2 linked regions of the Homo sapiens genome follow. The protein of the gene in region 1 interacts with the protein of each later gene in a pairwise test. Each region holds a gene or a part of one and is shown in the gene's direction. Other genes may lie near its edges.

Region 1 (5,071 bases):
GGCAACAGCAAGAGATCATGTCTCTATAAAAAATTTAAAAAATTAGTCTGGTGCAGCGGTGTGCCTGTAGTCCCTGCTACTCAGGTGGTTGAGGCAGGAGGATTGCTTGAGCCCAGGAGTTCAAGGCCGCAGTGAGCTACGATTGCAGCACTGCACTGCCGGGGTGAGAGAGCAGGACCTTGTCTCTAAAAAAATTTTTCAGCATACTTTTTTTTTCTTTGGAGACAGAGAGTCTTCCTCTGTCACCCAGGCTGGAGTGCAGCAGCAGGACCTCACTGTAACCTTCGCCTCCTGGGTTCAAGCTATTCTCCTGCCTCAGCCTCCTGAGTAGCTGGGATTACAGGCATGTTCCAACACTCTTGCTATGTTTTGTTTTTTTTTTTTGTTTTTTTTTTTTTTGTATTTTTAGTAGAGACAGGGTTTTGCTGTGTTGACCAGGCTGTTCTCAAAATCCTGGCCTCAAGTGATTCGCCCGCCTCAGCCTCCCAAAGTGCTGGGATTACAGGCGCCAGCCCCGCACCCGCCAAAAACACACAAAAATTATCAGGGATTGTGTTTATAAATTTAGTTACTTTTGAAAATGTTTTTACATTTTGAACTTTCCTGTAAGGACTATTCACCCATTGCATTGATTGGTGCTCACAGCACTTAATACTTGAACAAGGGGAATTCAAGGACATGCTCTTATCCCCTTTCAAGTGGACTCAGAAGGAAAACAAAACAAAACAAAACAAAACAAACAAACAAACAAAAAAAACCCCACAATCAACAAGAAACAGGAGAGGCCTCAAAACAAGCAGGGCTCTCTCCCTGGGGCATCTCACTTTTTTTTTTCCTTTTAAACCACAAGGCCCTAACAGAGGAGCAAACTCCATGTGGTTTCTTAACTGTTTCAAAAGTGATCAATCACCAAATCGAATGTGACGTGCATTGTCACCTTCCAAGGAAAACTCTGAGTAGTCTTGAAAGATAGAATCACAAAAGGGAAAAATCACCTCTCCAGGGCTAGTTCCCTTATAAAATAAATCTGTCCTGGGGCTTCCCCTTGGAAAAACACACACAGGGCCCCAAGTGTGTGTAGGCTGACTGGCTACACAATCATTTGAATTTAGTTTCGAAAATAGCCCTTCCCTGTGTCCCTAATGTAAAGGAATAATTAAAACCCAAAGCGCATTTCCCTTAATTAGCCGAAAGCCCTAGCAATGCATGGCATTGTGGGCATTCAGGAGCCAAAATGCCCCCACTCATAAAAAATGATCCAAACAATGGCTCGTGCCCAAGCTTTCACACTTGTTTTGCAGAGAAGTCTTGGCTGGCAGAGGCAGGATTTGTAATTCCTTGGGTCGCTTGACTTCACGAGGGGCGAGGTATGCATTGTAGCGACACGGACTACTTGTGAAGCCTTTGGGCGGGAGTCGCTTAAAGATTAACTTTCTCGGGTTTCCGTTACCAAAAGCGTTTCCGTGAATAGCGTGATTGGAAACTTGTGCGGGCCGGAGACCGCGGCGCGGCTGCTCTTTCAACAGGCGATTTGTTCTCCTGTCCGAGGCTCATTTCCATGCAAAGAGCCTGACATCAGAGCACCTTTTGTTGCTAAACGCTTTCTTTAGCCTCGAGGGAGAGAGTCATGTGGAGCTGGAAGAGCTCATTTTGAAGAGAGGGGTCCCGGGGAGCTCCCTCCAAGATCTAGAGGCTCCGCGGCCACCCCTGCCGGGTCCTGCCAAGACTTGCTAGAAGGAACGAGTCGCGTGCCTTAGTTAGTTGGTTCCCGTCACAGGAAGAAACGCCTTTGCAGTGGGTTTAATTGCTTCTGGGCCGAGCGAATTCCCCGCCGTACAACTCAGTGGTGCGGACTTTGCCTCCTGCTACCCTGTTGCTGCGCCGAGCGGGGTGGGAAAGTTTCTGGAGTTGTCAGTCGCGCAGCCCGTGGCCACCTAGACCCGAGGTGCGGGCGCCTGCGAAGGGCCCCCGCGGGGTGGCCGGGGCCGCCGGGGCATGCAGCGCGGGGGCGCGGCTCGGTGACGCCGCGGGCGGGGACCCGGCATCCGGGCAGGCTGCGCGCGGGTGCGGGGCGAGGGCGCCGCGGGGACTGGGACGCACGGCCCGCGCGCGGGACACGGCCATGGAGGACGCGGGAGCAGCTGGCCCGGGGCCGGAGCCTGAGCCCGAGCCCGAGCCGGAGCCCGAGCCCGCGCCGGAGCCGGAACCGGAGCCCAAGCCGGGTGCTGGCACATCCGAGGCGTTCTCCCGACTCTGGACCGACGTGATGGGTATCCTGGTAAGTTACCTGGGGAGGGGGCGGCGCAGGAAGTACAGTTCGCAGCAGCCCCTCTGAAACCGGGGGCTCCCTTCTCGCCCACCCACTGGGCAACCCACTCCGCAGAGGCGTCCTTCTCTGGCTCTAGTTCTTAGGGGGCTAAATACACACAGTATAGGATTTCAAACCCTAATTAAAAAATAACCAGCCACAGGTCCCGTCAAAAGGTGTTTTTTAAACAATCGGGTATGATATTCAACAGTTTAATCTGGGACACCTGCTGACATGTTGGTGTGGAAAAGGCGAGAAAGAGGCCTTCAAAAAGTAGATGTAAATAAATATTTGGTTGGTGCTGGATTAGGGAAAAGGCTGATGTTACTGATGTTTATCTCTTCACCATTTGTTGTGTGACCACAAGAGGGAAAACAAACATTTCCTTACTCAGAACTGCCAAAATGTTTGCCTACTTTTTTTTGCAGTTTTTCAATTTGTGGAGTTACAGGATATTTGTTTTATATGTTTGGGGCTAAAACAATAGGACTTATTTTGCTAAATCTGTGCTGTCATGTATTTTGAAATGTCCAGTGACTAAAAGCGCCCCTGGATTTGGCATAGTCTCTGGGAAGCAGTTCTTCTGTATGGAGGGTGAAGTTTTAACCTGCTCAGGGTTGAATACCTTGGGGAAGTAATAGATTTGCTTTGGTGGAGCTGTAGTTAGGCAGGTAGACTGGAATCAGATGGGCGAGGTTTATTACAGTCAGACATCTTAATCCATACATAAAAGACAACTTTAGTTTAAAGACTTGGAATGGCCAGATGTGCAGATTATCAGAAAAGTCTCTAGATTTGCTTTGAGATCTTATATTTTTTGAGTGGGAGGAGATGGAGTGAAAGTTCTTCTTTGGGAATGATAAACCGTGTACAGTTTTTAGCACAGTGATTAAACTCTTGGGCTTCAAAGTAAGTTATACTAGGTCAAATGCCAGCTCTCCAATTGACTGTTTACATGATCTTGGCCAAGTCATTCAACCTCTCTGATCCTCAGTTTCATCACCTGAAAATTGAAGAAAAGAAGACTTGCTTCTTGGGGTTTCTGAGATTTAGCTGGGTTGATGTGTGTATCAAGTACTCAGCAGACTGTATAGCATATAGTAGAGGCTCAATAAGTGTAGCTGTCTTTCAGGTTTTATTTGTTTCCTGCAAAGTCTCCTGTCTCTTCCTTCTGGACATCCTAAAAGCCCAGTTACTCCATTTTCAGGTGACCATTGGTATTTATGATTCTTACTATACAGAGAACCAGCGAGCGTTGGTTAAAGATTTCTATCTGCTCTTGTCACTCTCCAGTATTGAAAAATGTATATAAATATGCATGCAATGTATATTTACATACTATATATAGCACATGTATATAATATACCTAAATCTAATATATATTTTAGATTTAAAAGGTTTTGTTTTTGCATTTTCTGAAGTATACAGATGAATATGATCCTTCACTGAAGTTCCAGAAAACCTAATGGACATTTTAAAGTTGTGATAAACTTTTTCTTTTCTTTTTTTTTTTTTTTTTTGAGACGAAGTCTTGCTCCGTCGCCCAGGCTGGGGTGCAGTGGCACGAGCTCAGCTCACTGCAACCTCCGCCTCCTGAGTTCAAGCAATTTTCCTGCCTCAGCCTCCTGAGTAGCTGGGATTACAGGCGCGCAACACCACACCCGGCTGATTTTTGTATTTTTAGTAGAGACGGGGTTTCACCATGTTAGCCAGGCTGGTCTCGAACTCCTGACCTTGTGATCTGCCCACCTCGGCCTCCCAAAGTGCTGGGATTACAGGCGTGAGCCACCGCGCCCGATAGACTGTTTTTAAGTTATCCTGTTATTTCTTGTCTAGATCCAGTTCTAAGTTTTCAGTCACTGAGGAAATTGGTTTGATAATATCCCATTGTATCCCTTACTCTAGGGCGTTGGGCTGGGGGCGGGGAGGATTGGGGGCCTGTTTAAATGAAACTTGGGCTGAGGGTTCTTTTGGGGAAGAGGGTTGGCCAGTGGCATTTTCTGCAGATTTGCTTTCCCTTCCCTGACAGATTCCAGCACTGTTGGGTCAGTTGTAGTGGAGTGTTCTTTGGCTGAGTTAAAAGATGGGGTGGGGCTTCAGAAGCTCAAACCTGCTATTGAAAGGGCAGATGCAGGAGCAAAGAAAATATGTACTTCAGCTAATCATTCAGGATCAGGCTGGGAAGAACGTAAAGCCTGTCCCAGACAGGTTGTGTTTGCTCATGTTTTCCTCTTGTTTATCTGGGGTAAACAGGCATGGAGATTGTTCCTTAGTAAAATTCAGAGGAAGACATGGCTTACTGCTCCTTTGTAGATGTCTTGCAGGGAGACACCAGGCTAAAAGGGAGGGAAAGCTGTCATCCAAGTGTTTATACAAACTGAGTCTTCGGGGAAATACATCAAGACACAAAATTAACAGTTGACTTTATTCTCACTGAAACAAGAGACACCATTTCCTTCCTTTTTTATTTAAAATATAAGATTTTGCAATCATCTATCAATCTAGACAGGTGAAGTGACTTGGCCAATGGCACATACCATGTTAGTGACAATGTTAGACTTGTCCCTGGTCGCTGGCCCCTCCAGTAGGGATCCTGATGTCATGACGCTCCATAGTTAACTCTCAGATGAATTCAGTAGAAATGTAGTTCAGTACATTTAGAAATCCTGTGTGTTTTAGGTAAAATGTGACTTACAAGATTCTTTTTCCGTACTGAACTTGAAGAGGACAGTAGAGGTAGTTGGGAAATTACACATCTGAACA
Region 2 (4,407 bases), on another chromosome or scaffold:
CCTGGACTGTCTCCTGAGGGCAGGCTCCGCACTCAAAATCGTGTTGACAGGCACCCGTTTAGGAGTGGAGAGGGACCCCACCCCCCAGCTGTCCTCTCCAGCGCCTGTTTCCCACTTGGCCACTCCCAGCTCTGCCTCCAGGAAGGGTGAGGGCACGGGTGCACCGAGGGGTTGGCGTGTGTGACCCTGAGCTCTGGGTCAGGGCAAGCTCATGCATGGAGCAGGATCACGGCAGGTTCCTGGAGATCAAACGGCAAAGGCTGTAAACCAGGAAGCCAGGTCTTGCCTGGGCTCAGGGGCAGGCACTGGGCCCGAAGGAGGAGGGCCACTTCCTGCCAGCCCTCCACCGAGCTCACCTATGGCGCCTCCCCAGGAAGTGCTCCGGCCAGCCCAGGGTAAACACGCTAGCCCTGCCCCTCTGGGACCATAGCCCGGGGACCCAGACTCTTGGCCACGCTCATTCCCACCCCTACCCAGGACCGGCAGCCGGAGCCTTGGGTCCCTGCATGGGCCTGGGGCGCCCTGTGCCCCTTCACCTCGTCCTCGTCCAGTTGACTGCTGTGGCAGCCGGTGCTACCCGCTGTGTCCACTGCACCCTGGCCCTGTTCTGAGCGGTCACAGCAGCTGGGGAGAAGGGCCATCCTGGAAGCCGGGCAGATGAGGACGGAACCAGACAGTCCCACTGTGGTGGGCAGAGGTGGGGCCTGGGCCTGACCACGGGGCAGTGCAAGGAGAGAGGCATCCTGAGAGGGCCTGAGGTGTCCCCACCTCCCCTGACACCCCATCCCTCAGTGCCCAGGCTGGGCAGAAAGGGGGGCCTGGAGGAGCAGCTGCACTGTGAACTCAGGGCTCCAGGCCTGGGGTGGGCATGGCTGGGTCCTGCCTGACACCCACCCACTCACCGAAGCCTCTGCCCCTGGGCCTGCGGTGGGCCCGGTAAGGGAAGTGACTCTGCCCCATGCCTGGGGCACCTGAGGGGTGCACCTGGCCCGGCGGAGGCTCTGACCTCCCCAGGGCTGGAGCCCTCCCCAGCAATGCGCCAGCGCTGCCCCCGAAGTCCCATTGGCAGCGTTCCCCCGTCCCCCGGCCTGCTGGGGCGCAGCTAGGCCCTGCCCAAGGAAGAGCTCGAGGCCTCGCCCTGCTCATCCCGCGGAGGCGGCCCTGCGCCCCGCCTGTCCCCAGCGCCCCAGCTCTAGGGGCTAGGCCCGCGGAGGGGCACACCAGGCGGGTGTTGGGGAGGACGCAGAGGGCTGGGGCTGGAGCCCAGGCGGGGCAGGGGGCGGGGCGGAGCTGGGTCCGAGGCCGGCGGGGGCGCCTCCATCCCACGCCCTCCTCCCCCGCGCGCCCGCCCGCTCTCGGGTGACTCCGCAACCTGTCGCTCAGGTTCCTCCTCTCCCGGCCCCGCCCCGGCCCGGCCCCGCCGAGCGTCCCACCCGCCCGCGGGAGACCTGGCGCCCCGGCCGAGGCGCGAACAGACGGACGCACCGGCGAGCGCCGAGGGGACAGGCCGAGCGCGGGGCGCCGGAGGCAGGTGAGCGCTGCGGACACGGGGGAGCGCGCCCGCCCGGGCCTCAGTTTACCCGGTGGCGATGGGACGCGGGGCTTCTGGTTCAGGACACCGGGACGAACGCGGCGTCGCAGGGCGCGGGGCACTTGGAGGGCGGCCGGGCCGAGGGCGCGGGGCAAGGGGCTGGGGGCCTGGTCGAGTCCCCACCTCTCCTGGACGGGTCCTGCTGCAGCCCGGCCTGCCCCCGTCGGTCCTGGGCGGCGGCCGGCGAGCAAGGATATTTTTAAGCCAGCGATGGGTGACTCACCTGCCCCGTCCTGCCCACTCCCAGCTCTGGGGCTTGGTGGGGGCAATCCCTGCGTCCGGAGAGCGCTGGTGGTAGGGAGGCTTCTCCCGGTTCTGTGAGCAGCAGGACCCTCCCGAGGGCCTGACCGTGGAGGTAGCACTGCACACCCACTCCCTGTGGGCCGGAGCCAGGAGGCACTTCCTGGGTGTCGGAGCCCAGAAGGAAACCAGTGGCCGGGAAGCACCAGCTGGGTCAGTCTCCAGGTCAGGGTTGGGGGTGGGAGTTTCAGGGAGGAGGGGAGGCTGGGACAGGGGCTGCAGAGGCCCTGCCAGGAGAGGCAGGAGGGTGGGCTGGCAGGAGCCTGTGGGCACGCGAACTTCAGCCATCCTAGATTCCTGGTCCCTGCGTCCAGCTGCCTGGCGTTGCCCCTTGCTGCGGGGTGTCCCTGGTGGCAGGGGAGGGGGAGGCAGGGCCGGGCATGCCCGGACCTCTGCCCCCACCCACCCCGTGCTCAGTCCTGGGTCGGCTGTGCTGGGAGGCAGGCCCAGCTGGCGGCGGCCCCTCCCCTCGCGGCCCCTCCTCCCCTCGCGGCCCCTCCTGGGTCCCAGCCTCTCCCGGGCCTGCTTAGCACCCAGGCCTTGTTGGCATAGCTCTCCCACCGGGCCTTCTCCGCCTGCCTCGGTCTCCTTTCCCACCCTCAGCTTCCCCAGCTTATCCCTTCCTCCCTCAAGCCATAGCTTCCAAACAAGGACAGGGCCAGGGCCTGAGGGGCCTCCCCATTCCAGGGCCCCACCCAGCGCCTATGAGGGCAGCCTGGAGCCCCTGTGACTCAGCTGACCCCTCCCCAAGGTCACTCAGCATGTGGAGCTGGAACTTGAACTTGGAGCCCGTCCCTCTACCCTCCTGCCCTGCTGGGACCTCCTCCCCTCCACAGCCCGACTGACCGGGCACCCCGCTCTGCCTCACTTCACACCGGGAAAATGACCACAGTACAAAGTGCAGCCTGGGCCTCCAGGGCTTCGTCCCCACCACCAGTGGGCCAAAGAAGCCTCCCCAGGGGGGCGGGGCTCCCACAGGGCAGGAGGCAGCCCCATACCCATGTGCTTCAGACCCAGACACCACACCTGGACCCACCCCACTGCTGCCCGGCCCTGCCTGGGCCTGAGGTCCCCGATGCCCTGCAGGCAACCGAAGGCCAGGAACCTGGCCTTCCCCAGGGGGGTCGCGTGTCACAGCCCTCCATGTTTGCGTGCCCCCAGGCCTGAGTCTGCAAGGGTGCGTTGGTGTCTCGCCCAGGTGTGTGCCTGGACACACGTGCCTGGCGCCCTTGGTGGAGCCCGCCAGGAATCCCATTAAGCAAACACTCAGGCTCGCCACTGAGCCCGTGAACATTCCAGACATTCTCCACGGATAGATGGATGGAGGAAGTGGCCATACCCCCTGGTGCACCCAGCCCCTCATGTCAGCGGCAGTGCCCCCGGGCCTCCCAGACCCTCCCACTAGGCCAGACCTGGTCAAACCAGAAAGTCCCGGGTGCTCCGAGCCACTCCCTTGACCCTCCATACCAACAGCAGTGGCTGGTGACCCCCACCGTGGCAGACCCAAACTCTGAAGCCACAGGGGACAGCCCTGCAGCCCTGGCAGGAGGCAGATGGTGTGGACCTGTGGGGAGCTGATCACAGAGCCACAGAACAGCCAGGTCCCCACAGGGCATAGTCCCCTTGGGACAAGTCAGCCTGGTTCAGGGCCATCAGGCTCTGTCCATCCCCCCGGGAAGCCCCTAGGGTCCAGCCCAAATCAGACCCACCTGTCTGCCCTGGCGGCTGGGCCTTAGTTTCCCCAAAATGCTCGGGGAAGAGGTCAGCACTAGGAGCCCAGAGACAGGCTCTGAGGATTCTGCCCCTGGGGGAGGCCAGAGGCACCTGCCCCATAGCCACCCTACCTCGTTGGAGGGGCAGTGATACTGTGTGTTGGGGCCACTGGACTGGCTCCCAGTCTCAGCCCCCACCACACCTGCCCTCCAGTCCCTCCCCTAGGCTTGGCTGCTGCCAGGGGTTCTGCGCTGGCCACCTGGCCGCATCCCTGCCCTCGAGGTGAGGAAACACTGCACCCCGGGGACCCCAGGGTTTCCTGCCCGCACAGCCTCTTCCCTGCCAGGTCTCCCAGGCCCAGGAAAGAGCCAAGGGCCAGCCTCTTTGCTGGGGCCTGGACAGAGGTGGCATGTGTGGGTGGCAAGTCCACATGTGGGTGCAGGAGCCCCTTGGGGTGCAGGCCTGGGGTGGGGCAGGAGTGGCGGCTAGAGCCGGGCTCCCTCTGGACTTCAGGACCTACCCCAACTCCAGCCTCACCTCTCCTGCCATCCTGCAGCTCCCACCCGCCCTCCCCCAACCCCCACCGCACCCCCCTCCCCCCACACTCCCACCTCATCCCCCTCCCCTTACCCATCCCACCCCCCTCCCCACAGCACCAGGGCCTTAAACTCCATGCTGCCCAGCTTGGAAGGCGCCTTCTGCCCCCAGGGCCCTTGTCAGAGCCTCCCAGTCAGCCTCTGGGGGGTCCCTGTGGAGCACCTAGGGTCTGAGGCATGACGAGGCTGATCGACTGTCAACTGGGA

The links. The genes of interacting proteins can lie anywhere in the genome.
Region 2: the proteins of SASH1 (region 1) and EPS8L2 interact in a two-hybrid assay, tested with the Homo sapiens proteins (one large-scale study listed by BioGRID).

What each region holds. Positions count from the first base shown.
Region 1 is NC_000006.12:148,340,946-148,346,016, forward strand, and holds the start of SASH1 (SAM and SH3 domain-containing protein 1), read left to right. Parts: upstream 1-1,892; 5' UTR 1,893-2,122; coding exon 2,123-2,278; intron 2,279-5,071. UniProt on the Homo sapiens protein: Is a positive regulator of NF-kappa-B signaling downstream of TLR4 activation. It acts as a scaffold molecule to assemble a molecular complex that includes TRAF6, MAP3K7, CHUK and IKBKB, thereby facilitating NF-kappa-B signaling activation.
Region 2 is NC_000011.10:704,758-709,164, forward strand, and holds the start of EPS8L2 (epidermal growth factor receptor kinase substrate 8-like protein 2), read left to right. Parts: upstream 1-1,473; 5' UTR 1,474-1,531; intron 1,532-1,814; exon of another isoform or gene 1,815-2,326; intron 2,327-4,407. UniProt on the Homo sapiens protein: Stimulates guanine exchange activity of SOS1. May play a role in membrane ruffling and remodeling of the actin cytoskeleton. In the cochlea, is required for stereocilia maintenance in adult hair cells.